Linked DNA regions of Homo sapiens: regions 2, 3, 4 and 5 are each reported to be linked to region 1. Evidence: microRNA targets listed by miRTarBase, many of them from high-throughput screens and not tested one by one. Region 1 holds a microRNA gene; each other region holds the end of a gene's coding sequence.
The links. Region 1 holds the annotated microRNA hsa-miR-6515-3p (UCUCUUCAUCUACCCCCCAG, at 4,182-4,201, shown strand). A microRNA usually pairs through its seed, bases 2 to 8, with sites in the 3' UTR of a target mRNA and lowers its output. Matches are read on the target gene's strand: a 7mer-m8 pairs with bases 2 to 8, a 7mer-A1 pairs with bases 2 to 7 and ends in A, and an 8mer does both.

Region 1 (6,043 bases):
AGACAGGGTCTTGCTCTGTAACCCAGGCTAGAGTGTGCAGTGGCAACAACACAGCTCACGGCAGCGTCAACCTCCTGGTCTCAAGTGATCCTCCTGCCTCAGCCTTCTGAGTAGCTGGGAACACAGGCAGGCGCCACCACGCCTGGCAATTAAAAAAAATGTTTTTGTAAAAATGGCCTCCTGCTATGTTGCCCAGGCTGGTCTTGAACTCCTGGCCTTAAGCATTCCTCCCATCTTGGCCTGCCAAAGTGTTGGGATTACAGGCGTGAGCCACTGTGCCCCGTGTGTTTTTAGTTAATTTCCACAAGAGTCCTTCCTTCCTCTCTTCTATCATGCAGCAAGTACTTTTTAAGCCTGTTCTGTGCCAGGTGCTGCAGGTGACACTGGAGGATGCGAAGTGAACAAAACAGGCAGTGTCTAACCTCAAGTAGGAAGCGCCAAGCCCACAGGTGCCTGACACAGGAACAGGAGGAAGGGTCAGCAAGAGGCCTGGGATGGTCCCCGGGATCCTCATGGGGGGGACCAGACTAGGCAATACTGAATACTACCTAGAGGAAGTGGTAGAACCCCAACTTCCCAGTTCATTCTCCCCCGTCTTTTTTTCGAGATGGAGTCTTGCTCTGTCACCTGGGCTGGTGGGCTGGAGTGGAGTGGCGTGATCTTGGCTCACTGCAATCTCTGGCTCCCAGGTTCAAGCGATTCTCCCACCTCAGCCTCCCGAGTACTGGGATTAGAGGCACCCGCCACCACGCCTGGCTAATTTTTATTTATTTATTTATTTTTATTTTTAGTGGAGATGGGTTTTCACCTTGTTGGCCAGGCTGGTCTCGAACTGACCTAAAATGATCTGCCCGCCTCGGCCTCCCCAAGTGCTGGGTTTACAGGCGTGAGCCACTGCGCCCGGCCACCATTTCTTTTTTTTTTTTTTAACCAGAGACCCTTGCCAAGTCATTCCCCCCACTCCACTTTATTTTCCTTTTCATTTTTTCCTTCCTCTCTTTTCTGAGTCACAACCATTAGCCAGGAAGCACCCCCTCCCCACCCTCTTTCCTGGATCCCCCTCATTCCCTCCTTCCATAGTCCACTCCCGCGCTCCCAGGTCCAGGGCTTATTTGCCCAGAGTTTGGAAAACCCCCAGCTCTCCTTCCTCCTTTCTACAGCGTGGGGGCAGGGTACTGGTGCCAGTCACGTGCCTCTGGCTTCTGAAGAAGACTCTAGACTGGGGTCGGGGGGTGGGTCCTGCCCATCTCCCTAGCATCTTATCGTCCCTACCATCTGTGTCTTTTTTCCCTCCCCAAACGGAACCCCCTGCCCTCTCGCCTGCCTATAGCCGTTTAATTGCAAAAGCCAGGCCGTTTGTGGGAGACCACAGACAGCGACCCCCTTCATTTACCGGTTGAGAGGAGGGTAAAGGGGCGGCTGCAATCTGGGTAATAACCCTATCCCCACTCCAGAAGTCACAGTCACATCGTTAAGCCTTCCTCCCCTCTTGTCCCAGGACAGCTTTAAAAACGTTAAAAGCATTTCTGCTGGGTAGCATCTGGCCAGGGTCGCCCCCTCTGTCTGCTCAGGAACGTCTGTCACTTCAGAGAGCTTAAGTGACTTGCCCCGGTCACACAGCAGCAGTCCGATAGGCTGCCAGGGCTCTAGGGGCAGAAGGAGGAGAGGGCTGGCATTCTTCCCACCGGCCCGCGTGACTGTAGCACCGGGGTGCAGCGAAGCCCCAAGGGCCCCAATCCGTGAGCTCTCTCCCATCCCAGGCAGGGGTGGGGGAGCAGCAGTGGGGTGCTGGTTCTCAAATGCAAGATAAGAGCTGGCTAAGAAAGCCTTGCCCAGCCCCTCCACCTAGAGGGAATGGGAGGGAGAGAAGCTGAGGGCAGGGTCCCGGTCCCGCGTGGAGACAGCTGCGCTCCCGCGGTTTCTTTAAACGCCCAGATGGGCAACGACGCGCGCGGACGAGGGCGGGGTTGGGTTCAGGTCTGGTCACATGACCTGGCCTGAGGTGCTCGCGGCCCCCACCCCACCAGTGGGCGTCCCCCCCACGCGTGGTCGACCATCATTGGTCGGTGGTGAGGCCAATAGAAATCGGCCATCTGGGAACCCAGCGTTCCGAGGCGCAGCCTAACATAGTGAACCGACGAAGGTCCAATGGAAAAAGACGGCCATGGGCATAGACCAATGACAAAGTGGCAGGGGCGGGCCCAAGGGCTGGGTCAGGTTGGTTTGAGAGGCGGGTGGGTATAAAAGTGCAAGGCGGGCGGCGGCGTCCGTCCGTACTGCAGAGCCGCTGCCGGAGGGTCGTTTTAAAGGGCCCGCGCGTTGCCGCCCCCTCGGCCCGCCATGCTGCTATCCGTGCCGCTGCTGCTCGGCCTCCTCGGCCTGGCCGTCGCCGAGCCTGCCGTCTACTTCAAGGAGCAGTTTCTGGACGGAGGTAACGCCTGGTCCCGCCTCGAGGCCGCCCCGACGACGCGGCCGGCCCCCGATCCTGGATCTGCGTTGTCGCCCGTAATTACCGTTTAGAGGTCCAACACGGTGGCCTCCCGGGACTAGAGCCGCGGGCGATTTCTCTTCTGCGTCCCTGGGGAGCGCGGAGGGCGTAGCGGCCTCCCGCGGCGGGAGTTAGGGTTAGCCCGAGGATCTCTGAAGGCACCCGACGTGTCAAACTAGAGGTTGGAATGGGGAGTGTCGGGGATCTCCTTTCCTGTCCCCAGCAGCTTGTGGCTCTCGGCAGATGTTTGGTGTGGGGGGGGATTAGCACAGCCGCTCTGACCTACCCCTCTAATCCCCCACTTAGACGGGTGGACTTCCCGCTGGATCGAATCCAAACACAAGTCAGATTTTGGCAAATTCGTTCTCAGTTCCGGCAAGTTCTACGGTGACGAGGAGAAAGATAAAGGTAAGAGCCTAGGAGTGGGTGCTCAGATCCGGGAGGACTTCCTGGCAGAAGTCCTTGTCTGTACACACACAGCCGGGACAGTCCCCTTGGAGGAGGACAGGTGGAGGAAGTGGGGGAGTCTTCTCTATTCTCTAAGTCGAGGGTCCTCGCGAGTCAAGGCCCAACGGTGACCTCACTACCGTCCCGTCTCAGGTTTGCAGACAAGCCAGGATGCACGCTTTTATGCTCTGTCGGCCAGTTTCGAGCCTTTCAGCAACAAAGGCCAGACGCTGGTGGTGCAGTTCACGGTGAAACATGAGCAGAACATCGACTGTGGGGGCGGCTATGTGAAGCTGTTTCCTAATAGTTTGGACCAGACAGACATGCACGGAGACTCAGAATACAACATCATGTTTGGTGAGGGCCTGCTTCCTGGTGCTGATCTCTGTCCCATTAGTTAGAGGGAGACCCAGACCCCATTGACTTTCTTAATAATGATTTTTTTTGGAAGGGGAGCTAAAAGAATAAGTCCCAGCAACAATTTATTGCATTATGATCGCAGATCTAGGCTGTTAATTTAATTTGCGTGTTTGTATATAGTTATTTCCCAATCTTACTAATGAGGATTTTGAGTTCTAGAGCACTGATTTTTTTTTTTTCTCCTTTAAACTTAAGGCTCCACCCACAGCCCATTCAGGACAGAATCAGGGTCTGAGTTTCTCTTCTCAGCCTTGACAGACCCGAGTTGAAGAACCAGGTCTTCCTTTTATAAAGAGGGGTGAGAGCCTCGAGATGATGGGTAGTCTCTGACTCTTAACTGGATCTGCTTCACACCTAGGTCCCGACATCTGTGGCCCTGGCACCAAGAAGGTTCATGTCATCTTCAACTACAAGGGCAAGAACGTGCTGATCAACAAGGACATCCGTTGCAAGGTGTGCCTGGGGGTGGTGGCAAATGGCTGTCATGGGGAGATTCAGAGGTCAGCCTCATTGGGGGGTGGCCCCCGCTCACCTTCTTCCTTCTTCAGGATGATGAGTTTACACACCTGTACACACTGATTGTGCGGCCAGACAACACCTATGAGGTGAAGATTGACAACAGCCAGGTGGAGTCCGGCTCCTTGGAAGACGATTGGGACTTCCTGCCACCCAAGAAGATAAAGGATCCTGATGCTTCAAAACCGGAAGACTGGGATGAGCGGGCCAAGATCGATGATCCCACAGACTCCAAGCCTGAGGTTGGTGTTTGGGCAGGGGCTCTGCTCTCCACATTGGAGGGTGTGGAAGACATCTGGGCCAACTCTGATCTCTTCATCTACCCCCCAGGACTGGGACAAGCCCGAGCATATCCCTGACCCTGATGCTAAGAAGCCCGAGGACTGGGATGAAGAGATGGACGGAGAGTGGGAACCCCCAGTGATTCAGAACCCTGAGTACAAGGTGAGTTTGGGGCTCTGAGCAGGGCTGGGGCTCACAGTGGGGAGTGCACCAACCTTACTCACCCTTCGGTTTCCTTCTCCCTTCTGCAGGGTGAGTGGAAGCCCCGGCAGATCGACAACCCAGATTACAAGGGCACTTGGATCCACCCAGAAATTGACAACCCCGAGTATTCTCCCGATCCCAGTATCTATGCCTATGATAACTTTGGCGTGCTGGGCCTGGACCTCTGGCAGGTGAGACTTGGAGGAAAAAGGAGGATCCCTGGGGTACCTCAAGTGCATAAGATCACCCAAGAGGAAAGGGACAGGGTAGGCACCCCAGGTGAGTCTGACTCAAAAATGGTACTTCTTGTAAACAGTACTTCCTGGTCTGTCCCTGTGAAGTCCTCACAGCAACCCCTTTAAGGTTATACTTGCTGTGCACCAAGTACTTCCCCAAGTACTTTTATGCAAATCAACTTCTTTACCCCCAAAGACCTAGAAGGTGGTCAGGTAACCCAGTTAGTTAGCTGGGGCTGGGCACAGTGGCTCACCCTTACAATCACGGTACTTTGGGAGGCTGAGACAGAGGATTGCTTGAGGCCAGGAGTTACACAACTCAACCTAGCTTGGCAACACAGCGAGGAGACCCTATCTCTACAAAAAAAATTTTTTTTTTTGAGACAGAGTTTCACTCTTGTTGCTGAGGCTGGAGTGCAATGGCACGATCTCAGCTCACTGCGCCCTCCGTCTCCTGGTTTCAAGCGATTCTCCTGCCTCAGCCTCCGGAGTAGCTGGGATTACAGGCATGTGCTACTATGGATGCCAGGCTAATTTTTTTTTTTTTTTTTTTTTTTGAGACCGTGCCTTGCTCTGTCGCCCAGGCTGGAGTGCAGTGGTGTGATCTCTGCTCACTGCAAGCTCCGCACGACCCCCCAGGTTCACTCCATTCTTCTGCCTCAGGGTCCCGAGTAACTGGGACTACAGGCACCCCCCACCATGCCTGGCTAATTTTTTTGTATTTTTTTTTTTAGTACAGACATGGTTTCACCGTGTTAGCCAGGATGGTCTCCATCTCCTGACCTCATGAACCACCCACCTTGGCCTCCCAAAGTGCTGGGATTACAGGCGTGAGCCACCTCACCCAGCCTTTTTGTAGAGACAGGGCTTCATGTTGCCCAGGTTGGTCTCGAACTCCTGGCCTCAGGTCATCTGCCCGCCTCGGCCTCCCAAAGTGCTGGGATTACAAGGGTTAGCCACCATGCCTAGCCTCTACAAAAACTTTAAAAATTGGCGAGATGTCATGCATACCTGTAGTCCCAACTACCAAGGAAGAAGGATGATCACTTGAGCCTGGGGCATCGAGGCTGCAGTGAGCCATGATTATGTCACTGCACTCCAGCCTCGGTGACAGAGTGAGACCCTCTCAAAAAAAGTTGGGACTTGGCCGGACACAGTGGCTCACACCTGTAATCCCAGCACTTTGGGAGGCCAAGGCGGGTGGATCACAAGGTCAGGAGATGGAGACCATCCTGGCTAACATGGTGAATGAAACCCCATCTCTAGTAAAAATACAAAAAATTTGCCAGGTGTGGTGGTGGGCGCCTGTAGTCCCAGCTACTCGGGAGGCTGAGGCAAAAGGATGACGTGAACCCGGGAGGCGGAGCTTGCAGTGAGCTGAGATCATGCCATTGCACTCCAGCCTGGGTGATAGCGAGACTCTGTCCCAAAAAAAAAAAAAAATGCTGGG
Region 2 (6,043 bases), not on the chromosome of region 1:
GCCTTAAAGCAAGTCTGCTGTATCACCTCCCTGCTCAAACTCCTCCCTGGGGCTCTTTGTTGCCTCAGAATAAATCAAAGTAAGCAGAAACACCCCACCTCTGACCCCTCAGCTGTCTCCAGTCCTCAGCCGACATGTGAGGGTCCAGCTAAATGGAACTCTGGTTCCTCGCAGCTCCACGAACATGCCAGGTTTTCTTGTCTGGGGTTTTGCACATGCTGTTCCTGTTGCTGGAAGGGTCCTCCTCCACCTGAGGACTCCCTCCTGCTGGCACCACCCTCCTCTGCTGGGGGCTCACCACAGGCCTTGCTTCTGTCTTGGCACTTACCACAGCTGAAAGGTCATTGCCCTCTGCCTGTGTTCCCAGGCTAGGAGTGTCTCAAGGGCGGTGTGGTGCCTCCATGTCCATGCACGGCCACACAGTCTGCCCAAAGAAGGTGCTCAGGAAAGGTTTGTTGAATTAATTACATTTCTCCTCACACTGTCCTCCAGCTGGAGATCAACGATGTGACCAGGGCCTGGGGGCTGGAGGTAGACCGCGTGGAGCTGGCAGTGGAGGCCGTGCTCCAGCCGCCCCAGGACAGCCCAGCTGGGCCCAACCTGGACAGCACCCTCCAGCAGCTGGCCCTGCACTTCCTGGGAGGAAGCATGAACTCAATGGCAGGAGGTGCCCCGTCCCCGGGGCCAGGTGAGGAGCCCTGGGGAGGAGAGCGGGGGTGTTTACCAGCTTGGTGCCAGCACAGACTTTGCTCACTATCCCAGCAGCTCTGTGCAGTACACACCCTGCACAGATGTTCAGCCCACACTGACCACAGCCAAGGCAGTGAGAGGAGGCCAGGTGTCTGAGTGTGTAGAGGCCATTGGCAGCCTCCATGGGAGGAGGCGACATCACCAGAAGGGCAGCTGGAAAGAATTTTATATCTGAGGCTGGAGTAGTTTAGAAACTGAGTTTGCAGTTTAGGCTGAAAACTCAGGGGCACCTTTCTGGTAGAGGAGGAAGTTGAACAGAGGCCTGAAGGGGATCTAAGAGGAAACTGCCACAAAAGGTGCAGAGGCCACAGTGAGTGGTCCTGACCTTGGCAACACGATGACCTCCTCTCTGCCTCCTTCCCCAACCCTGTTGGCCACCCCCAGCAGACACCGTGGAGATGGTGAGTGAAGTTGAGCCACCTGCCCCTCAAGTTGGTGCCAGGTCCAGTCCGAAGCAGCCTCTGGCGGAGGGGCTACTGACTGCTCTACAGCCCTTCCTGTCTGAGGCCCTGGTCAGCCAAGTCGGGGCCTGCTACCAGTTCAATGTCGTCCTGCCCAGCGGCACCCAAAGCGCCTACTTCCTGGACCTCACTACAGGTGCCGCTGCCCTCCTTGCCTCTCCTTCCCATCCAGCTTGCTAGGTTTCTTGTTACCTACCCCAGTGGTGCTCTCGTAGACTGCCCCCTGCTCCTGCCAATAATTTGGGGTGAACCCATGGCAGGCAGGGGCTCAGACACCATTTCCAGGCATTAACTATGCCCTGGTCTCCCCGCCATCCGCAGGACAATGCAGCCAGGCTTCCAATACCAAGAGGCCTGCCCGTGTTACAGGCCTGCTGCCTGTCAGGCTCTGTGCCAAGTACTTTTTGTACATTATCTCACCCACTTCTCACCATGAGCCTATGCTTTAGGAATTGTCATCTCTAAAGGAATTATCATCACAGATTTGGAAACTGAGGATCCAAGAGTTCACACAGCCAATAAGACTCAAACCCAGGGTATTAGAACCCAAACTCTTAACCAGTACTCTCCTCCCAATGGGAAATACCAGCCCCTCCCACCCCCATAGATCTCCTTCACGTTCCTCCATTCCCCTACTGACACTCGGTTTTCTTTTGCCCCACAGGACGAGGAAGAGTGGGACACGGGGTGCCTGATGGCATCCCTGATGTGGTGGTGGAGATGGCCGAGGCAGACCTGCGGGCCCTGCTATGCAGAGAGCTGCGGCCCCTGGGGGCCTACATGAGTGGACGGCTGAAGGTGAAGGGCGACCTGGCTATGGCCATGAAGCTGGAGGCTGTCCTCAGGGCCTTGAAGTAGCAGCCTTGGCTGACTTTCCAGAGCCCAGTCCCAAGCCTGGCACCAAGCCTGAGGGGCCTCTTGGAGGAGGAGGTGTTCATCTGCACCACAGAGAGTTGAGGCCCTAACAAATTTCAGGCCCAGCCAAGAGCCCATGAATGGAGGCTGCAGGAGGCTGAGTCCGGCTGCCATGCACGTCTCCCCTACAGTGGTTCTCTGGACAAGGCTTTGTCCATCCCGGTCCCCAGCTGAGTGCCCAGCGCTGAGCTGGGTGCACGGTGTGATTCCAGGAGGAGAGCCAGGCCTGCCCTGCCCTGCTGGCTTCCTGACTGGAGAGACAGGACCCACAGAAACAGCCTGACAGCAGCTGGTTTGGTCCTTGTGTGAGGGACCAAGCATGTGGCCCAGGCTCTAAGCTCTGCGGGGATTGGAGAGGGATGGGGAGGGAAGGGAAGGCAGCTCCAAGAAGAGGTCCCTGTGGCGAAGTTACCTGGGGATCCTGGCTGGCCCACCTTCCTGGCTGCAGTCCAGGCCCGTGCTGGCGGGATTGGGCATGGGAAGGAGCAGGGCCTGCTGCTTCCCTGGCGCTGCTCCCAAAGATTTCTGACTCATCTGCCAGCTCTGTCCTGCATGCCTGGCGAGCTGGGGCCCAGGGCAGCATGAAGGAGAGCCCTGCGTTCTGTGCTTCTTACCAGAGGTTTGCAAGCCTCAGACAAATAAATGTGGTGTTTACAATGTATAAAAGAGAAGAAGCCAAGCGGGGCTCCTGGGGGCATGGGGTGGGCTAGGAGGGTCCACAAGGTCCATGCTGCCAGCCCAGGCAGGGATTGACATCCTGGTGGCTGACACAGACAGACCCTCACAATATTTGAAGCTCCTTCTCCTGAGTGTCTCAAAGCCCCTGGAAGCAAGGGTGGGGCTGGGTGGGGAGTTCTGTTCCTCTTTGTAGTGGGATACAGGTTCACCAGGAAAGGAAGGCATGAGTGTGCCAGAGTGTCCTGCAAACACTGAGGGGCAGGTGGGGTGGTCATATCCCATTCAAGAGAGGAGTTGGGGCCACCGTCAGCTTCCCCTCCTGGTACACTCTGTCACTGCTTCTCCGCTCGCTGACGGGAAGGAAACAGTCATTGAGGTCTGGCCCCAGGCCCAGCCCAGCCCTGCTTTCTGCTCCAGTACTCTCGCCCAAACCCCAGGGGCCCCAGAGAAGGGGGCCTCTGACTTCTTGAGTCCTAAGAAAGGAATCTTACTCCTTGGAGAGACTTCTGGGAAAAACAAAACCACAAAAATCAAAGCCTCCCCTTAAGAACAGCCCCCAGCCTGTCCTGTGGCACCGCAACTTCCCTCTCCCCCAAGGGGTCTCTGCCCTTCCTGGGTGCCTGGCTCTGTCTTGTTTGCTGTCTGTCCCTGCCTTTGCCAGACACTGCCTTGTCCCGCCTCCTGGAGGTCCTCCACATTGCCTGAGGCACCTCCCTAAAGCCCAGCACAGACCCCTCTGTCACTGCCATGGCCATTGAGGTTCAGGTTTCCAGGGCCCCTTCCTAGAGTCCCAGGCTGCTGCACCTGCTGTTGCCCCTTTGCCTACTTGGAGGCCTCTCATGGGCCCTCCCAGGGCTTTCTAGCTGAGGCTGTCTGTTCCAAAGCCTGCCCTCCAATCCCCGCAGCCACACTGTGGCCACCCTTTGAGGCCCAGTGAGACTTGTCCTCTGTGCCCTTGCCTGGCTCTCTGCACCCATTCCACATTGTGTGTTTCTGCTCCTTGCATATATGGCTGCCCTCCCTGCTGGACTGGGAGCTTCCTGCATCAGCATTCACCTGTGGATTCCTTCCATTGCTATTACACAGTATATGAAGGGCTGCCCAGGAAACCCCAGGCATCTTCACCATGAAAGCTGGCACGGCCCCTTGGCTGGGGTAGGGCTGGAGGGTAGGGAAGACAGGAAAAATGAGATCACAACTTAGGGGAAACCCAAACTCTTCTTTGTGAGCATGGGAAGATCAACATAACGTTTAGGGGAAACCGAAACTTTTCTGGATGTCTGTGTAGGTGGAGAGTAAGGCCTGCCCCTGCCATGAATCCCCACCCTGTGGAGGGGAGCTCGATCCTTGGCCAGCACTCCAGGACTACAGAGGACTGAGCAGACCCTGCAGTCCACAGGGGAGGAAGGACAAGGGCCACCTAAAGGGTCGGTGTGAAGAGGGAGGAGGAGGGTGTGTGTCAATCAGAGAAGGCTTTCCTGAGGAGGTGATGTCCTCCACATCCCAGCTACCAAGTAGGTGGACAATAAGAAGAGATGGGGAAAATCATTCAGCAGAGGAGAAGTCCCTGCAAGGGCACAGCTGGAAGAGGCAGTCAGGCAACTGGGCTTCGGGGAACTAGAACCTGAAGTACCAGACAGGTTGTGTGCGGGCATTTGAGGGGCAGGGTATAGAAATAGTAACCATTACTGTGTGCCAAATATGTCCTTATACCGGACTAGACACTTCTTATTATATTTTTCTTCAAGATAACCTGGTGAATAATGATAATAGTTTAAGTATCCTAGTTAATATATTAATATATAATGTGTTATTTTGATGTTATTGAAAAGTATTTTATTTTTTTTTGAAACAAGAGTCTTACTCTGTTGCCCATGTTAGAGTACAGTACAATCTCAGCTCACTGCAACCTCTACCTCCCGGATTCAAGTGATTCTCCTGCCTCAGACACCTGAGTAGCCAGGATTATAGGCGCATACCACCACACCTGGTTAATTTTTGTATTTTTAGTAGAGATGGGATTTCACCATGTTGACCAGGCTGGTCTCGAACTCCTGACCTCAAGTGATCTGCCTGCCTAGGCCTCCCAAAGTGCTGGGATTATAGGTGTGAGCCACCGCACCTGGCCTTATTTTTAAGCATTTAAAAAAAATTTTTTAGACCGTCTTGCTCTATCACCCAGGCTGGAGTGCAGTGGCATGATCATAGCTCACTGTAGCCTTGAACTCTGGGGCTCAAACGATCCTCTTGCCTCAGCTTCCTGAGTAGCTGGGACCACAGGTTGTGCCACCACAACCGGCTAATTTTTAAAATCTCTTTTGTAGAGATAAGGATGTCTCCCCATGTTGCTCAGGCTGGTCTTGAACTCCTGGGCTCGCAGGATCCTCCCACCACAGCCTCCCAAAGTGCTGGGATTACAGGTGTGAGCCACTGTACCCAGCCAATATTTAAATTTTGGTTGGCTAAACATTTAAAAAGATAGGAAAGCATATTATGAAAATTCTCCCTCCACACATATTTCCCATGCCTTCCCCCATCCCCTGCGATTAGTTTCTTGGTAATTCTTCCTGAAGGTTTTGTTTTTTAAAAAAAAATATATGCAAGAAAATCCAAATATGTATCTTCTGGGTTTTTGTTGTTCCTGTTTTTATACAAATGGCAACATAGAAACACAATGTTGCCTTTTTCACTTAACATTACCCACTGAGGATCTTTCCATGTTACCACAGACAGCCTTTCCCTGTGCTTTCTTGTACTTACATAGGATTCCACAGTATGGATGTATCATAAATTATTCAACCTGTCGTGGACCGATAGACATTTTGATTATTTCTTGTGTTTTGCTATTTTAAATACTTTTGCAATGAATAACCTTTAACATGTGCTATTTGTGGTAGAGTTTATCTATAAGATAAAATCCTAGAAGTGGAATTGCTAAATCAAAGCATTTATAATTTAGTAAATATTGCCAGAATACCTTCTCTGGGGATTATACCAATTTACACTCCCATTGTCAGTGGTGTTTTTTTCTCATAGTCATGTCAATACACTGTGTTATTAAACTTTTGGGTCTTTTGACATTCTGGAAAGTGAAAATTTGTATCTCAGTGTAATTTTTTTGTTTATTGTTCAAGTTATTTTTTTGTTTTTTGTTTGTTTGTTTTGAGACAGGGTCTCACTCTGTCTCCCAGGCTGGAGTGCAGTGCAGTGATTGTGGCTCACTGCAGCCTCAACCTCCC
Region 3 (6,043 bases), not on the chromosome of region 1:
CCGCCAGGTTCTCATTCAGTGACGTCAAGACTGGCTATGTCCCCATGTCCCCAGAGCCTCCTGTGGGCTGCGACCCACAGGTCACCCTCCCTGGAGCCCAGGCTCTGCAAGGACTCCAAGGCACCGGGTCCTGAGCTGCCGGGAGGGAGGGAGGGAGGCTCAGGGCTGACCGTCCACATTGCCTGTCCCTCCCGGCGCTGGCAAGATGCGAACACCACAGACATCTAGTAAACTTCGGGAATCACTGTGCGGGGCCCGTCCAACCAACTCAGGACGACCACCCAGGCCTCGCAGCAGCCCGTGAAGAGTGGGCTCTGAGAATGTGGGGCACACCAGGCTCCCTCTCTGGTCCCCAACCCCAGCCGCTGAAATAAGTGCAGCCACAGCAGCCCCCGGTCACGACCCGAGACGGCCATTTTTCAACGCTCAACTTCACTTTCACAGAAATGCACCAAAGGCAGCCTCGCTCTGTGGTCTGCAGCGATTACTGCACCAGGAGAAGGCACCCCTGTACCTGCAGCACTTCTGGGCCAGGGCTTTGGGACGGGACGCGAGCTGACCACCTGTTCCTTCTTTCCGCAGGGTCGCGGAGCCTCGCCGGCCGCCATGTGGAGCTGCAGCTGGTTCAACGGCACAGGGCTGGTGGAGGAGCTGCCTGCCTGCCAGGACCTGCAGCTGGGGCTGTCACTGTTGTCGCTGCTGGGCCTGGTGGTGGGCGTGCCAGTGGGCCTGTGCTACAACGCCCTGCTGGTGCTGGCCAACCTACACAGCAAGGCCAGCATGACCATGCCGGACGTGTACTTTGTCAACATGGCAGTGGCAGGCCTGGTGCTCAGCGCCCTGGCCCCTGTGCACCTGCTCGGCCCCCCGAGCTCCCGGTGGGCGCTGTGGAGTGTGGGCGGCGAAGTCCACGTGGCACTGCAGATCCCCTTCAATGTGTCCTCACTGGTGGCCATGTACTCCACCGCCCTGCTGAGCCTCGACCACTACATCGAGCGTGCACTGCCGCGGACCTACATGGCCAGCGTGTACAACACGCGGCACGTGTGCGGCTTCGTGTGGGGTGGCGCGCTGCTGACCAGCTTCTCCTCGCTGCTCTTCTACATCTGCAGCCATGTGTCCACCCGCGCGCTAGAGTGCGCCAAGATGCAGAACGCAGAAGCTGCCGACGCCACGCTGGTGTTCATCGGCTACGTGGTGCCAGCACTGGCCACCCTCTACGCGCTGGTGCTACTCTCCCGCGTCCGCAGGGAGGACACGCCCCTGGACCGGGACACGGGCCGGCTGGAGCCCTCGGCACACAGGCTGCTGGTGGCCACCGTGTGCACGCAGTTTGGGCTCTGGACGCCACACTATCTGATCCTGCTGGGGCACACGGTCATCATCTCGCGAGGGAAGCCCGTGGACGCACACTACCTGGGGCTACTGCACTTTGTGAAGGATTTCTCCAAACTCCTGGCCTTCTCCAGCAGCTTTGTGACACCACTTCTCTACCGCTACATGAACCAGAGCTTCCCCAGCAAGCTCCAACGGCTGATGAAAAAGCTGCCCTGCGGGGACCGGCACTGCTCCCCGGACCACATGGGGGTGCAGCAGGTGCTGGCGTAGGCGGCCCAGCCCTCCTGGGGAGACGTGACTCTGGTGGACGCAGAGCACTTAGTTACCCTGGACGCTCCCCACATCCTTCCAGAAGGAGACGAGCTGCTGGAAGAGAAGCAGGAGGGGTGTTTTTCTTGAAGTTTCCTTTTTCCCACAAATGCCACTCTTGGGCCAAGGCTGTGGTCCCCGTGGCTGGCATCTGGCTTGAGTCTCCCCGAGGCCTGTGCGTCTCCCAAACACGCAGCTCAAGGTCCACATCCGCAAAAGCCTCCTCGCCTTCAGCCTCCTCAGCATTCAGTTTGTCAATGAAGTGATGAAAGCTTAGAGCCAGTATTTATACTTTGTGGTTAAAATACTTGATTCCCCCTTGTTTGTTTTACAAAAACAGATGTTTCCTAGAAAAATGACAAATAGTAAAATGAACAAAACCCTACGAAAGAATGGCAACAGCCAGGGTGGCCGGGCCCTGCCAGTGGGCGGCGTGTGCTAGCAAGGCCTGCCGGGTGTGCCGCAGTCACCACAGGGTTCTGAGAACATTTCACAGAAGTGCCTGAGACGCGGAGACATGGCTGGTGTTAAATGGAGCTATTCAATAGCAGTGACGCGCTCTCCTCAGCCACCAAATGTCCCTGACACCCTCCCCAGCCCCCACAGATAACATCAGCTGAGGTTTTTTTCAGTATGAACCTGTCCTAAATCAATTCCTCAAAGTGTGCACAAAACTAAAGAATATAAATAAACAAAAGAAAGGTGTGTTAGGATTTCTGACTGAATACCAGAGCTGAAGGGCCCCCAGGGGACAGAGGGCTGGAGGCTGTGTCACACGGGGTCTGGTGGGAGGGCCAGGGTGGAACCTTAGGCCAGCTCCGAAGGCACCTGGGACCAGCATCCGTATCTCCGCGGCCCTCGCAGCCTCAGATGGGGCCCGGACCGGCCTGTTCCACTTGAGCGAACAGGTCTGCAGTGAGGAGGGTCCATAGTGGGGCGGGTCCGTAGTGGGGCGGGTCTGTAGTGAGGCGGGTCTTAGTGAGGTGGGTCTTAGTGGGGCGGGTCGGTAGTGAGGCGGTTCCTAGTGAGGCGGGTCCCGAGTGGGGCGGGTCAGTAGGTGGTTCTTAGTGGGGCGGGTCTTAGTGAGGCAGGTCTTAGGGGGGCGGGTCCATAGTGAGGCGGGTCCGTAGTGGGGCGGGTCTGTAGTGAGGTGGGTCTTAGCGGGGCGGGTCTTAGGGGGGCGGGTCCGTAGTGAGGCAGGTCTTAGTGGGGCGGGTCCGTAATGAGGCGGGTCTTAGGCAGGCCCGTAGTGGGGCGGGTCTGTAGTGGGGCGGGTCTGTAGTGAGGCGGGTCCGTAGTGGGGCGGGTCTGTAGTGGGGCGGGTCCGTAGTGAGGCGGGTCTTAGTGAGGCGGGTCTTAGTGAGGCAGGTCTTAGTGGGGCGGGTCCGTAATGAGGCGGGTCTTAGGCGGGCCCGTAGTGGGGCGGGTCTTAGTGGGGCGGGTCTGTAGTGGGGCGGGTCCGTAGTGAAGCGGGTCCGTAGTGAGGCGGGTCTTAGTGAGGCGGGTCTATAGTCAGGGGCAATTGTTCCTCGTCAGCCTGGCTGGAGACCTTCCACCCATTGGGATTTTGTAAAACATCTACTTTAAAATGTGGCCGTGAGAAAAGCCCCCATTCCTCCCCACCATCTGTTCGCCTCTCCCCGATTTTCTAGGATTAAAGTATAGGCCTGCAATCCCCTACCTCCAATTCTAAAGCCCACAAAGCTCTGAAAACAGGAAGATGTTCCCCCCAAGTTTGCGGCAAATTCACTGGGCAGCGATCCCTGACCTGAAGGGGTGTGAGAGCTTCATGTCCATGAGGACCCCACCCCTTCTGAAGACGGGCGATGTGGCTGTGGGAGCTGCCCTGAGCGCCCCGGGGTTCTGTGGCACACTTCCTCCCCACAGCCTGAACGCGCTGGAATTCTGAGTATGCCCGGCCCCAGGGACAGTGGGGGTAGGGTGGGGGGAGTGGCACCTTGCAGCCATCGACGTGGGGACGTCACGCTCTGGTCCCAGTCTCCTGGGAATTCAGCCACGAGGTCACTGGCATTATTCATCACGTGCTGCAAGCAGGTCAGAGTCGGCCTCGTGAGGACGCGGCTCTGGGTGGCTCCTGCGGGGAGCTCAGACCCGCGGGACAGGCTCCTAAGCCGTGGGATTAGAGAACAGTTTTCTGAGCTGTTTCTGTCAGTGTTTGGTTTTCAGGTGTGAACCTTTAAAGCCGCAGGCCTGACCTCCCTCCCAGTCCCTCTGGAGCCGGAGCTGGTGTAAGGGCCGCGTCTCTGATGGTCCTGGGCTTCCCATCTCCATGCCTGCGCGGAAACCCTGGCATCCGATGAGGAAGTGATCACACAAGCCCACAGAACCCTGCCCAGCGGCTGGCGCCGTCAGCCCAACCCTCCTACCCCTGCAGCCCAGCTCTGCAGGGTGGGGTGTCCGTGCTTGAACCAGGAGACCCTCTTCCTGGCCGATACTTTCCAGCCCCCCTTGGCTCCACGCTGAGCTCCCAGGAAAGGGGCGGACCCCACACACAGGTGAGGGTGGCACTGGGCTGCCTCTGCCCGGGAATTACACCATCCAACTATCCTCCCCAAAGGCAGGAGGGGCCTAAAATCACTATTTCAATTTCTCAGTGGCTTTGGGTGCAAACTGGCTCATTTCTGTGGGTCTGTTGCAGGGACTGGCCTGCATTCAATACCCCTCATCCCACCCTGCTGGGTGGCCCTGTGGAGGGCCCCAGGGACACCCTGCTGCCTGGTCAGCTGTTTGTTCCTGGTGGGCCCCACACAGGGCAGGCACATGCCTCCAGCGCAGACCCTCGCCTGCTACCTGAGACACTTCACTGTGCACCATGGCCTGCCCCAACCCCCTACCCAGCGAGTCCCCTCCTCATCCCCAGGTTCCCGCCAGCCTCTGCTGCCTGAGACCCTCCACTGAGCGCCAAGGCCTCCGTCCTCATCCCCAGGCTCCCGCCAGTCTCTGTGGCTGCTTCCCAGGAGCTGCGTCGCTGACTGTTCCTGAGACACCTGCTCATCTATATTCTATGTTGCCTTCACCTGGGAAGATTCGGCACCTCCTGAGCCTCCTGCCGCCCCTGAGAGATTCCCAAAGCCTTCACCTCATCACACACAGAACACAAGAACTTGAGCCACTCGGGGCAGAAAAAGGAGCTACTTGTAAAAAGTCAAGGTAGTCATCTGCCCAACTCCCCAGTTCTTCCAGGCAGCCGTCTCCCCAACTCCCCAATTCTTCCAGGCAGCCATCTCCCCGACTCCCCAATTCTTCCAGGCAGCCATCTCCCCAACTCCCCAATTCTTCCAAGCAGCCATCTCCCCGACTCCCCAATTCTTCCAGGCAGCCATCTCCCCAACTCCCCAATTCTTCCAAGCAGCCGTCTCCCCGACTCCCTAGTTCTTCCAGGCAGCCATCTCTCCAACTGCTTAATTCTTCCAGGCAGCCGTCTGCCCAACTCCCCAATTCTTCCCCAGTTTGTGAGACACCAGGATGCGAGTTTTTCAGCGCGTGACGTCCCAGGGTCAATGATATTGCTACCAACACTTCTTGACTACTATAGTTCAAAAATCATTCATCTTATTTTTGTTTATCCACAAAAAAACCTTGCCCTGCTTCCTTAAGTAAGATTCCAGAAAGGGAGTTTAGTTGTAGATTCACTTCATTAAAGTTCTAAGAGTTATTGTAGGAAGCTGGATCTAGTGTGAATTGTGGCGAAGAGATCAGGAAATCTACACACGTCTTCTTTCATACACAGCACACGACAGAGGGAAAGCAGGAATAGTAACCGTAACAGAAAGTATCATAAAATTGGTTATTTCCCCTCGAATTGTACGTCTTAATACTTTCGGTTACCCCTCTGTAGTTCCTCTTTGCAGAAATTCTGTCCACCCAATCACCCAGGAGTGGTTCCACTTCACACACGCCCGGCACGCAAACCATGTCTCCACACGTCTCAAACGGTAGCAGAGGGAGTACCTTGGCTGCTGGCGAAGGAGTAAGCCACGCGGGCTGAAGGAGCAGGCCTGCCCCACACAGGCGTTACTCCTCCCAGAAAAATAAGAATAAAGTCACCATTGACTACACCCCTGAGGGCTTCTGTGGCCCTGAGGATGGAACTGAGGTGTTGGGGTATCCTGCAGCCCTCCCAAGGATTCCGGCAGAAGTGAGAGCACACGTTCCTGCCTCCGCCCTGCTGCACAGGGCAGCCTGGCAAGAGCTGTATGGCGGTGCGCACGGTCCGCACTCCGTCAGGTTGGGAAGTGAAGGAAGAGCAGAGAATCTAGGCAGGAAGCATAACGTGAACATGCCCATTTCACATGTACCCCTACTCCTACCCCTAACCCCTAACTCTAACCAACTTAAACCTCACCTAAACACCCTATTCCTAACCCCCTAACCA
Region 4 (6,043 bases), not on the chromosome of region 1:
ACCAGTACGTGGCTGGTAACTTCCCTTTCTACAAGCGCAGCAAGGCGGGCTGGCAGAACTCCATCCGCCACAACCTGTCGCTCAACGACTGCTTCAAGAAGGTGCCCCGCGACGAGGACGACCCAGGTAACAGCGGCGCGCCGGCTCGCTCCGTCCAGGACTCCCCATCTTCCCGCCGGGCCGCGGGCACTCCGGGGGTGGGAGCACCTTAGACAACCTAATTTCTCCCTGCGCGGTTGGGGATACCCGGGGAGGAGGGAGAAGGGGAAGAAGTGCTTGGGCATGGACAGGTTCTCAGACAGCGGCTGAGCCCACCACAGGCCCGCGTTTACAGTGCGGCGGTCCCGGGGCTCTCAATCTCTGTGCGCTCCTTCGGAGGAAGAAGCGGGAGAGCCAGCAAGCTGGGTGACCTTGGGAGTGACTCAACTTCCCTGGGCCTCAGTGCCCTACCTGGTAAAATGGGGAAGACAGCGCCTACCCCAAGGATGGGCAAAACAAATAGGATGCCCGTTTGGAAAGCTCTGGAGCCTACCTGGGGGCCTGGCGTGGTCTGCGCTGTCCTTGGCAGAGCGGCTGGCGGAGTCCCACCATTAGCATCTCGCAGGCCTTCCTTCACCTTAACGGGGCTCGGCCTTTCCCAGGGCTCCCTTCCTCCTCCTTTCTGGATTGTCACTTTCTTCCCAGTCCTGCTGTGGAGGCCCATCGGGTACAGAGTGCCCGTCAAGGGTGGAATGGGGGCGAGGACTCAGACCCTCTGTAAGGGCCAGCAGGGGATCTTTCTGAAGCTGACCTCCTCGCTGGCTCACACCACGGCCCGTCAAAGCTCGAACCTTCTGAACTGGGCTGTTTCTTCTTCTGCAGGTAAAGGCAATTACTGGACCCTGGACCCCAACTGCGAGAAGATGTTTGACAACGGGAACTTCCGAAGGAAGAGGAAGAGGAGAGCTGAAGCCAGCGCGGCCGTGCGCTCGGGAGCCAGGAGCGTGGGAGGGGCCGAGGCGCCAGCGCTGGAGCCCCCGAGCGCGGCTTGCCTGGACCTGCAGGCCTCGCCCTCTCCATCCGCACCCGAGGCCGCCACCTGCTTCTCCGGTTTCGCTTCTGCTATGAGCGCTCTGGCTGGCGGCCTTGGCACCTTCCCCGGGGGCCTGGCGGGCGACTTTTCTTTCGGGAGGCGGCCACCGACAGTCGCCACCCACGCTCCCCAGACCCTTAACCCCTCCCCTGGCTTCGCCCCTGGCCACCAGACCGCGGCCGCCGGCTTCCGCCTCAGTCACCTCCTCTACAGCCGGGAAGGGACCGAAGTTTGAAGGGAGGCTGGAGGCTAGCCGGGTGCGGGTCCAGAGGTGCTGAGCTCAGGCCTCCGGTTTCCCCTGGTGACAGCCCCACGTGTTGGCGTTGAAGGCCTTGGTGCCCTGGGAGGAAGCGCAGAGCCGGGGGCGGCTCGGCCAGCAGGGAGCTGGGCTGAGCGGCTCTTGGGCTTTGGGGTGGGTGGCCCTTCTGCTGTGCACCCCTCACCCAGGCGACCTTCGGAACCTCCCTGCTCTGCCTCTAAGTCCAGCCGCCCTGGGCGTCTAGAACCTGTGCTCTCGAGGGATTTGCCTTGAAGGGGCGGCGGGTCGGCCCTCAGCTCCAGCGTTTTCCAAGGAGGCTGGCTGACTCCAAAGAGCCTTAGAGCAGATGGGAAGAAGGTGGGCTGCCAGAGCGGCCCAGGTGGTGGGGGCCCTTTCCACCTCCACCCAGCTTGGCCCACCTGGCTCAGGGCCTTCCCTTCTGCTTCAGGGAAGCTGCCGCAGGGGCTGGGGGACAGAGCTCAGGAGCAGCTGCAGTGGGCTCCAGGTGGGCCAGGAGCCTGCAGTGAGGGGATCTGAGACAGTTGGCATTGGGTCCTGTGTAAGGAAGGTCTTGCTAATGGTTGGAACTGCTGGTGGTGGGAGGGAGAAGCACTGCGTGGGCAGAAAGCGCCCTTGGGATACCAGCTCCCTTCCCTGTCACTCAGCCCTGGTCCTTGATGACCCCCCTCTAGGACAAGGCAACTCCCCAGGGCCCCGCCACCACTGACCACAGGAGCGGTGCCCAGCACCCAGGAGTTCCCCAAGGGTCCAGGTTTGTGCCACCCACACCCACACTCACACCCACACTCACACCCACACTCACACCCACACCCACACCCACACCCACACTCACACTCACACTCACACCCACACTCACACCCACACTCACACCCACACCCACACCCACACTCACACACACTCACACCCACACCCACACTCACACCCACACACACTCACACCCACACACACCCACACTCATACTCACACTCACACCCACACTCACACCACACCCACACTCACACTGACACCCACACTCACACCCACACTCACACTGACACCCACACTCACACCCACACTCATACTCACACTCACACCCACACTCACACTCACACCCACACTCACACCACACTCACACCCACACACACCCACACTCATACTCACACCCACACCCACACTCATACTCACACACCCACACCCACACCCACACCCACACCCACACCCACACCCACACTCACACAGGCTCATGGAAGGCCACACTTGTTTTGGTCTCTTTCCCCTCCAAACCCACAGTTTGAGCCAAAGCTGTGCGTGTGTTCAGAGCTCCTGAACAGCAGCCTCCTGTGTAAATTGAACCCTGCCCCACCCAGTTCCTTCTTAGGGATGGTATCTTTGTGAAGGACAAGGAGCCCCCAGTCACTGGGAAGAGGAATTTTTTGGCCTCTGTACTCCTTAGAGGACCTAAGTGCCCCAGTCAGATGCCCTGAGTCTTTGTGGCATCTGGGACTCCCTGGAGATGGAGACGTTGGTGGGGGGGGGGTACCCACCTTGTTGTTGATGGGGGTACCTATCTTCCCTGCATTTTGGGGGAGGGTGGGAGGGGTCCTTCCCAGGAAGAGAGTGGAGACAGGTTACTGTTACTTTGGAGTGGGACAGGCTGGTTTAGCAATCCTAAGCCCCAGCCACGCAGGTATTCCTGATCTGCCTGCAGGGCCCCTCACTGCAGCTGCCACCAGTGCTGGAAATGAGAGCAGGGCTCCTGACTGTCCCTAGAGCTGACTCATCATGGCCCTGCTGAAGAGTGAGGTGTGTGTGTGTGTGTGCGTGTGTGCGTAAGACAGAGAGGGAGGGAGAAGGAAGGAGGCGGGGGAACATGGAGAGAAGGAGCCAGGAGTTGGGATAAACCTGGCCCTGGTCATATGTTTCATCAGCAGTGGCTCCTAACTCCACGTGCCATCTCTGCTGCTGCCCTCCACAAGCAGGTGAGCAGAGTGCCAGTTGTGTTGAAGGTGATGATGTCGCCTAACTAAACTCACAACCAACCCGCAATCTCTCTTGGGGGGACACTCCCCATAAGCAATACAATTAAAGAAGACCAGGAAAGGAAAATAAATTCCTTAGCTTATACATTTAAAAAGTATCCCTTGAACCTATTTTAATAGAATGAAATGCTAAAAATAAAGACCAATATAACATACATAGCTGGCATGTGTATGCTATTTCGTATAAGAATTCCACTGCTATGACAAACATCCCCATTTTAGAGTCTGAACTTGCAGGAAACTTGGAAAGATCTTTTCCTAATTAAATTTGACAACAGTTGGAAAATGCAATGGACAATTGGACAATCAGTGGAGCTTTGAGAAAATTGGCTGACACGTGTGGATGTAAACATGGAATGTCATGGCTGCATGACTGCTAGATGTTGGGAAGCTGCTTTTTTTTTTTCTCTAACAATGGTATTTATGTTAAAATTGAGAAAAAAATATTTAAGATTTTTCAACTTTTGGTTTGTTGCCCAAAGATCGTTTTTTACCGTTTGAAAGTTGCTCATTTATTCAAAGCTTTATACCATTAGTAGGTAATAGTATAAACAAATAGGTGAAATCTTCATGAGAAAAGCTTGGTTAAAAATACTTCCAGCAGTGCAAGGTATTTGGACATGGGTGGGGTTAGATGGCCAAACCATTCTCTCCTCCAAAACAGCCCACATGCCTGGATGTGCTTAGGAGAGGGGAAGCCAGGCCAAAATGCATTTCATAGGCCCAGGCATGGCACAGTCAGCTTCAGACTCATTATCCCAAAGAAACATTTTCCCATAGCAAAGAAACTGTTGAAATCAAAACAAAAAAATGCAGCTTGAGGTCACTTTATGGTTAAATACTTTCTTCTGGCCAGGGCTTGGTGAACTTGACCACAGTCCCTAGAGCTCACTGAATGCAGGCAGCAGAAGGACGTGGTCCTGTTGGTCAGGCCAGGGCATTGCTGCCAGGTGGCTAGGAGGGTGCTCTAACCCCGGGGTTCTGAGCCCACTGTGGCACTCAGATCCCATCTGCTCCCCTGCCCTGTCTTGTGTGTGTGTGTGTGTGTGTGTGTGTGTGTGTTTGAAATCGTGAATCCTGCAGACAATTCCAAAAGTAACTGTGAAACTTCAATGAAAGGAAAACCTCTGCATCGTGGCATAGGCACGTGGCAGTGTGCCATAGGAATATCCAATTCTTAGTCTGAATAAACAACTTGGTGGCACTGAATAGTTTCAAATATAGAAGCAAGCTTCAAAATTCAGAGGTGAAAGACAATTAAAACATGCCAAAATATTGGGTGATTGGGAATTCTTTGCATTGCCAAGCAGCAGTGGTAATTTCCTAGTGACTGAAAATGAAAGAGAATAATAATACAGGAAACTGTAATCTGTCCTAGAAACCTTTGGTCACTGGGTCAATTATCCCCATACAAAGAAGAACCATTCATGAAGAAGACTCAACATTTGTTAGAAATGTTTTGTAAAGTGCCATATATAGTGTTTTAAAAAGTGAACATTGGATTTCAAGATATTTCACATATTGATTAAACATTGAGTATGTTTTTTTCTGATGAAAAAGTTTTGCATTTTAGCAATGCTGCCTTGGGATATTAATCCACCTTCAATCTTTAGTCTTCTAAAATGTATCTGCTGGTCAAGTGACATTTTTCATTCAAAGAAATACCATTATAGTAATTATTAGAACTCTCTCTTCAGTGAAACAGAACACTGAAGTTCATCCCCATTTTGCAGATAGAAAAGCTGAGTCAAGGGGCTAAAAGATCTCCAGAAGCTAAACTGATGAGAGCTAAAAGGGACTTCAGATGCACCTGCAACTTTTACGTGGCTCATATTCACAAATGCACCTATTGATGGACATGCGCACACGCGCACACGCACACACACACACACCCCACACACACCACCAAACCCCATCTTGGGTAGGATCTTCAAGGGAAAAGCCACAGATTACACCCCCTACCCTCCATACCTAAAGGCATAGTATTTTCAAATAACCCTTTGAGTTCAGGATTTGACTCCAGGTAGGAGAGAAACATGTGGAACCGCCACAGAATGCAATAGAGGTTGAGTCACTTGTATCCTAATAAAATGTGACTTGTTCAGTCTATCTCTTTTGAGTGTTAACTATGTGGTATTAAGTCATGCAGTGAATAAGCTGAGCCTGTTGCTACCCTCACAGAGCCTCCTTCCAGTGGTCGGAACAAAGATGAGTGAGCAATTACAGGCTGGACGTGGCTTTTTGGCTCTATAAGGATTACTTATAGATGATCAAGTCATCAACCATCTCACTTGTTAACACAAGTAACATATTGTGTCTTATATACAGACCCCAGTGTGTTCCACACCCTGCTAACTCAGGAAGTGTTTGATTTCTCAGTTTCATAACTTCTTTGTGATTTTAGGCAGGGAGTTAAGCACTGCCCCGGGCTGGTGTAGGTCCCATCTGCTCACTTTTCCACAGTGTCATTTAGGAAACTTAAAACCTGTCCTCATATTAGAAGATCTGTCATTTGGCAGTGACAGGGGAGACAATTAATGTGACCAGAGTTGGCCCTTCCCCAGGGCTTCTGAGTGTGCAGTCCATCTATAGGTTAAAGTTTTTAGAGCTCTTTTCTTTTAATCTAATTTAAATTTGCGGATCAACGTTATTCAGGGCTAACCCCTGGGTACC
Region 5 (6,043 bases), not on the chromosome of region 1:
TGGAGCGCCAAGTGTCGCACCTGTCGGAACAGAGGGACCTACTCCACAGGCCTCGTGCCTCCGTCGGAGCGCAGAGGCGGCACTTACTCTGCAGCCCTCCCAGAGGTTCCAGGTCAGGGCAGGGAAGGCCGGAGTTGCCTATTGGAGCAGAGGATCTATCAGGACGTCCCCGTTGCCACAGCGAGAAAAATCGATATGTTTTTGCGGGCTAGGGAGGCGAGCGCCTTCTGCGGGGTCCGCAGGGCGCTGGAGGAAGGGCCGGCGGGGGCTCGCGGCCCTAGCGCCCGCTCACCTCCGCTCCCGCCCCCGACGCAGCCATCTAGCCCCGTGGAGGATCCTCGGGCGCGGGACCGAGCTCGGGGCCCGGTGTTCCCGGGGGCGTTCGGTCGTCGCCCGCTGGGGCTTATAGTCTTCCGCGTCGGTGGCGCCTCGCCTGCTGCTCACTGGGAATTAGCTCGGCGCCCCGTTGCATTGTGGTCTTGGTAGTCTTTGCGAGAACGGCAAATGGCGGTTGCAGAGGCTCGTCCGAATTCTCGGCTCGCTGCTCCCTGGCTGGCGCGTGTTTGTTCATTCTGGGCTAGGTGAGCAGGGACAATACGTCGCCCTCTCAGGACTTTGCTCTCTCCTTAAAACCCGAGGATTCACCGTCAAGCTTCTGGTTTCTCTGACATCCTTCCCCAGCCGCCCCTTCATCGCCACCGATGATCCAGTGGAGAAGCTGTGTTGGAGGTCAAGGGATGGAGGCGAAACTGCGCGTTCTCGTCCCTGCAGAAACCGGAATATCCGAGACACATGACGAACATGAAACTTTCTCCTTGTCTCTTGGCTCCCACTCCGCTACACAGATGAACGGTGTTACCTTCCCTCATGTTACTTTGCTAAGCCTACTCCTCAGAGCTGGTCCTTTGCATAACCTCTTCAAATGCTCTCAACTCTCCCTTGCTCCTACATAATGGAGTAATCATAAGTGCAATGAGAAAAGCATGAGATTTGAAGTTCCATAAGTATTGAGTCTAGGTTCTGGTGGTTATTAACTCCATGATCTTAGGAAAGTATCTGTCAGTGTTCTGTGTAAAACGGAAATGCTAATGTGTATTTACCAGGACTTTTTCTTGCGAGAGGCAGATGAAATGTATCTCCGTTTCATGAGTAAGTTCAGAGAATATAAGTGACTTGTCCAAGGTCAGCAAGCTAATGAGTGGGAAAGCTGAGGCTTGAGCCTAGACTGTCAACACCCAGGCCAAAGATTCATTGCCTGCTTTTCATCTTATGGAGTTAAACCTTGATACACACTCAGATCTGCAGTGACTTGACCAGCACTGTGGGTTCATGCTTTACTGTCTGATAACGAATTTTCATTTAATTTTATTTTTTTTCTTAGACAGGGTCTAGCTCTGTCACCTAAACCTGATGAGGGCTGAGCCTTCATTTCGCCGTTTTTTGTTTGTTTGTTTTTGTTTTTGAACGAGATGGACTCTGGCTATGTTGCCAGACTGGAGTGCAGTGGCAAGTCACAGGAGCCATCATAGCGCATTACAGCCTGGAACTTCTCGTCTTCAGGGATCCTCCCAAGTAGCTGGGATTTCAGGCATGTGCCACCATACCTGGCTCTAATTTTGAATTTGTTTCTTTAAATTATTATTTGTGTTTGCTGAAATTGTGTGTGTATTATTTTTGTGTATGTGTGTGAGTAGTTATATGTTACATAAAGTAGGTTGTGGGGTTTTTTCCAGTAATGTTTAGCTATAATTGAAGTTTGGGCCGAAATCTGCTAGTATTTGTTACTCCTCACCAAATCCTACCTTATCTCACAACAAACTGTAAGATCTTGTGATATTTCACTTCCAATAACCTTACCAGGCATCAGAGTGGGGTCTCTACTCTGAAATTAAATATCTGCCATAAGGTATGTTGAAGACGTTAGTCTCTTTCCCAGGAGGCACAAAGTGCAAGTCTTTTCCTCATCGCTTGAGCAAATTAAACCTACCGGACAGTTTACTACAGAACTCAAACACAGCTGGGCGCAGTGGCTCACGCCTGTAATCCCAGCAATTTGGGAGGCCGAGGTGGGCGGATCACCTGAGGTCGGGAGTTCAAGACCAGCCTGACCAACATGGAGAAACCCCGTCTCCACTAAAAATACAGAATTAGCTGGGCATGGTGCCATATGCCTGTAATCCCAGGTACTCGTGAGGCTGAGGCAGGAGAATCACTTGAACCCGGGAGGTAGAGGTTGCGGTGAGCCGAGATCACACCATTGTACTCCAGCCTGGGCAACAAGAGCAAGAATTCATCTCAAAAGAAAAAAAAAAGAACTTAAGCATAAGCCACAAATAAGGTTTATCATTACCTCATCAATGCTTGGATACTTACATTTATCAAGTTATTACATTTTGCTGTGTAAAAAATATTATGTATGGTGAAAGGGGGATATATATATATTATGTATTAAAATATGTATTATATATTATATATTAAACATAATATAATTATATATAATTATATATTAAACATAATATATTATATATTAAATATATAATTATAATATATATTTAATATATATGTATAATATATAATTATATATTATATATAATATGTTATATGTTTATAAACATATACATGTTATATATATTATATATTTCCTATATATTTAATATATAATATATATAATTATACATTGTAATATATAATATAATATAATATATATATACTTAAGGATGCTGTGCATCAAGCCTGAATTTTTTTTTTTTTTTTGAGATGGAGTTTCGCTCTGTCTCCAGGCTGGAGTGTAATGGTGCGAACTCTGCTCACAGTAACCTCTGCCTCCTAGGTTCAAGCGATTCTCCTCCCTCAGCCTCCCAAGTAGCTGGTATTACAGGCACCCACCACCATGCCCAGCTAATTTTTTTTGTATTTTTAGTAGAGATGGGGTTTCGCCATGTTGGCCAGGCTGGTCTCAAACTCCCAACCTGAAGTGATCCACCCACCTCGGCCTCCCAAAGTGCTGGGACTACAGGCATGAAACAACGTGCTCGGCCCAAGCCTGAATTTTCTTTTGCATTTCCAGTAGTTTTGCCATCTTTGTTATTCAGCAAAGAGATGTTTTTGTTTTCGTTTTTGTTTTTTTGAGACAGAGTCTGGCTGTGTCACCCAGGCTGGAGTGCAGTGGTGTGATCTCAACTCACTGCAACCTCTGCCTCCCAGGTTCAAGTGAGTCTCCTGCCTCAGCCTCCCAAGTAGCTGGGACTACAGGCGCCCTCCACCACTCCTGTCTAATTTTTTTTTTTTTTTGTATTTTTAGTAGAGACGGGGTTTCACTATGCTGGCCAGGCTGGTCTTGAACTCCTGTTGTGATCCACCACGCCCAGCCAAAGAGCTGTTTTTGTTAAAGTTTGCTTGTCCCAGGCTGGGCGCAGTGGCTCACGCCTGTAACCCCAGCACTTTGGGAGACTGAGGCAGACTGATCACTCGAGCCCAGGCGTTCAAGACCAGCCTGGCCAACATGACAAAACCCTGTCTCCACTAAAAACACAAAAGTTAGCCAGGTGTGGTGGCACGTGCCTGTAATCCCAGCTACTCGGGAGGCTGAGGCAGGAGAATCGCTTGAACCCGGGAGGCAGAGGTTGCAGTGAGCTGGGATCGTGCCACTGCACTCCAGTCTGGGCGACAGAGCCACACTCGGTCTTAAAAAAGAAAAAAAGTCCTTGTCCCTCTGCTTGTAAGTACCACCAAAGGGCTATATTAACTGACTATTGGCCAGGCATGGTGGCTCACGCCTGTAATCCCAGCTACTTGAGAGGCTGAGGCAGGAGGCAGAGGTTGCAGTGAGCTGAGATCGCACTATTGCACTCCAGCCTCGGAGACAGAGCAAGACTCTGTCCCTAAAAATAAATGAATAAATAAATAAAATAACTGACCATTGTGCCTGGCACTTAGTAGATGCTCAATATACATATATGAATAAATGAACTTCTCATTTTCCTCACTAATAAAAGCAGATATTAATGCCTATCAAATAACTAAATGGATTGCTGGCAGAATCAAAGAAGCTTGCACAAATCACTGGATAAATCACTAGGTGCAGTTATTTCCCTGAGGCTAGGACTGTTAGAGTTCTTCTCGCTGGGAATTTCCTGTGCTCAGGACAAGGCTCTGCCCACAAGGGCATCCGGACCCCATGGCGGAAAGAGGATATCCAGACCTTCAGATCACTCTACCTCCTGCTCTTTGCTATTTTCCTTACCAACAGAACAGCTAGGGAAGAGACAGCAGTAGGATTAGTCCTGGTTCCACAGAAACCGAGCCTGATTTGGGTAAATCAATCACTTTGAAGACACAATAATTGGATTTGAGTGGAGAACAATTCTGACAATAATCCAAGTTACCCAAAACAGGAACATTTGTGCAAATGGTGGCCTTTAATACCAAGAAAGACCATGACAAGTGACAGAACAGGAGCAAATTCCCTAGTGTAGTGCCGAGCTAGCCTTTTGCAGGACCCTAAAACCTGATCTAGTAACAGAATAAATCAGTGTATTTACATTTATGTTTGCCCTGAAAACCCAGGTAAGGTCTGAAGCCTGAGGCATCTCTCCTTCCTTTCCTCCTCCCTCTCTTCCTACCTCCTTGCCTTCTTTCACTTCCTCAATTCATTCCTCTCCCTTCTCCCTTCCTCTCTCTTCCTTTTTTTCCTTTCTGCTTTTCCCTTTTCTCCTTTTTCTCCTCATTCTCTTTACCATCTACCTATGTGACCCTCCAAGCCCCTCTGCTATTTCTCCCCTGCTCACTCCCTCTGCCGTTGTCTCCCTCAGGTTCAGCTTCCGGGGTGGGGAGGCAAGAAAGGGTCCTCAGCCCAGGGAGCACTTGTTGGTGTTCTTCTTGTCACAAGTTTTCAGGTCAGTACTGGGAGGCTTGTTGCCGTTTCCCTAGAGGGAGAAGGGCACAGGTGTCATGGTGTGAATGGATGGTTAGGGTAGGAGGGTATAAACTGTTTAAAGTAAATCCACCCTCATGAGAAATCTTAGCATTGCTCCCCGTTTTTATCAACACCAACACACACACACACACACACACACACACACACATACATACACACACACACACCCCAGAGTTGTACCTAGTCCAGCAAAACCAACTTACTGATCTCCGGCCTCCTGACTTGAGCAAGATGTCCCGGGCCAGGGAACTAAAAGCCTAAAGTGGGGAACAGAGTCAGTTTGGAGGGAGGAGAATCTACCTTCTAATACTTCCTCTCTTGGTCGGGGATGGGGGTGTGGATCTCACCTCATCCACATTCATACTGGATTTAGCACTAGTTTCGAAAAATCGGATTCCATGCTCTCGAGCCAACTATAAGGGGTGAAGTGGGAAGAGAATTGAATTAAGGACAGCAGCCAAGTCCTCTGCAATGCAACCTATCTTGGCCCTCCCAGCCCAGTTCTAGAACATTGCTCAGCCTGGCCCTCACCTTATCGGCCTGCTCCTTCTGCACCTTCCTCTTGGCCTCCATGTCACATTTGTTCCCCAGCAAGAGGCGCTCCACCCCAGCCGAGGCATTCTGGGGGCAAAAGACAAGTAAAAGTTAGGTCCTGCCGGCTGGGAGCGGTGGCTCACGCCTGTAATCCCAGCACTTTGGGAGGCCAAGGCGGGTGGATCACCTGATGCAGGAGTTCAAGATCAGCCTGACCAACATGGAGAAAACCCGTCTCTACTAAAAATGCAAAATTAGCCGAGCATGGTGGTGCATGCCTGTAATCCCAGCTACTTGGGAGGCTGAGGCAGGAAAATCGTTTGAACCTGGGAGGCAGAGGTTGCAGTGAGCCGAGATCCTGCCATTGCACTCCAGCCCGGGCAACAAGAGCAAAACTTCATCTCAAAAAAAAAAAAGTTAGGTCTTGCCTATCCTGATGGACCCCTTCATTCTCCAGGTTCTAACCAGTTTCCCCATCTCTTTTGGAGGGTCCTCACCTCCTTGATGCTTTTCATCCAGTTCTGAATATTCTCGAAAGATTTCTCATCCGTGATGTCGTATACTAGGATAATG

Region 2: miRTarBase lists STOML1 as a target of hsa-miR-6515-3p. Seed matches in the 3' UTR shown: 7mer-m8 at 4,239-4,245 and 7mer-A1 at 4,334-4,340.
Region 3: the mRNA of GPR146 is a reported target of hsa-miR-6515-3p. Seed matches in the 3' UTR shown: 7mer-A1 at 1,708-1,714.
Region 4: miRTarBase lists FOXI2 as a target of hsa-miR-6515-3p. Seed matches in the 3' UTR shown: 7mer-A1 at 2,942-2,948 and 7mer-m8 at 3,124-3,130.
Region 5: the mRNA of RAB13 is a reported target of hsa-miR-6515-3p. Seed matches in the 3' UTR shown: 7mer-A1 at 4,676-4,682 and 7mer-A1 at 4,612-4,618.

The regions. Positions count from the first base shown.
Region 1 is chr19:12,936,340-12,942,382 of GRCh38, forward strand. MIR6515 (microRNA 6515) reads left to right here and starts at 4,145; the gene lies at 4,145-4,201. CALR (calreticulin) reads left to right here and starts at 2,270. Exons shown (of 9, transcript NM_004343.4): 1 at 2,270-2,431; 2 at 2,795-2,896; 3 at 3,089-3,292; 4 at 3,714-3,808; 5 at 3,904-4,113; 6 at 4,202-4,315; 7 at 4,405-4,548. The coding sequence starts at 2,341. RefSeq lists enhancers at 1,712-1,821, 1,892-1,941, 2,568-3,317, 2,612-2,661, 3,554-4,753 and 2 more and a cis regulatory region at 1,872-2,510.
Region 2 is chr15:73,979,963-73,986,005 of GRCh38, reverse strand. STOML1 (stomatin like 1) reads left to right here. Exons shown (of 7, transcript NM_004809.5): 5 at 493-688; 6 at 1,135-1,347; 7 at 1,876-6,043. The coding sequence ends at 2,069. Among named protein-coding and RNA genes, the nearest start is that of STOML1, 9.3 kb to the left of the region's middle. RefSeq lists an enhancer at 3,985-4,174.
Region 3 is chr7:1,056,910-1,062,952 of GRCh38, forward strand. GPR146 (G protein-coupled receptor 146) reads left to right here. Exons shown (of 2, transcript NM_001303473.2): 2 at 583-2,352. The coding sequence starts at 607. The coding sequence ends at 1,608. All of the region lies in intron 2 of CHLSN (cholesin), which reads right to left. Among named protein-coding and RNA genes, the nearest start is that of CHLSN-AS1, 5.8 kb to the right of the region's middle. RefSeq lists an enhancer at 5,495-5,664.
Region 4 is chr10:127,737,659-127,743,701 of GRCh38, forward strand. FOXI2 (forkhead box I2) reads left to right here. Exons shown (of 2, transcript NM_207426.3): 1 at 1-126; 2 at 862-3,525. The coding sequence ends at 1,307. Among named protein-coding and RNA genes, the nearest start is that of FOXI2, 3.5 kb to the left of the region's middle.
Region 5 is chr1:153,977,252-153,983,294 of GRCh38, forward strand. It overlaps RAB13 (RAB13, member RAS oncogene family), which reads right to left. Exons shown (of 8, transcript NM_002870.5): 4 at 5,968-6,043; 5 at 5,468-5,557; 6 at 5,284-5,349; 7 at 5,140-5,193; 8 at 4,399-4,925. The coding sequence ends at 4,848. JTB-DT (JTB divergent transcript) reads left to right here and starts at 492. Exons shown (of 1, transcript NR_186180.1): 1 at 492-1,909. JTB (jumping translocation breakpoint) reads right to left here and starts at 423. Exons shown (of 5, transcript NM_006694.4): 1 at 1-423. The coding sequence starts at 1. RefSeq lists enhancers at 1-542, 544-593 and silencers at 264-313, 602-896.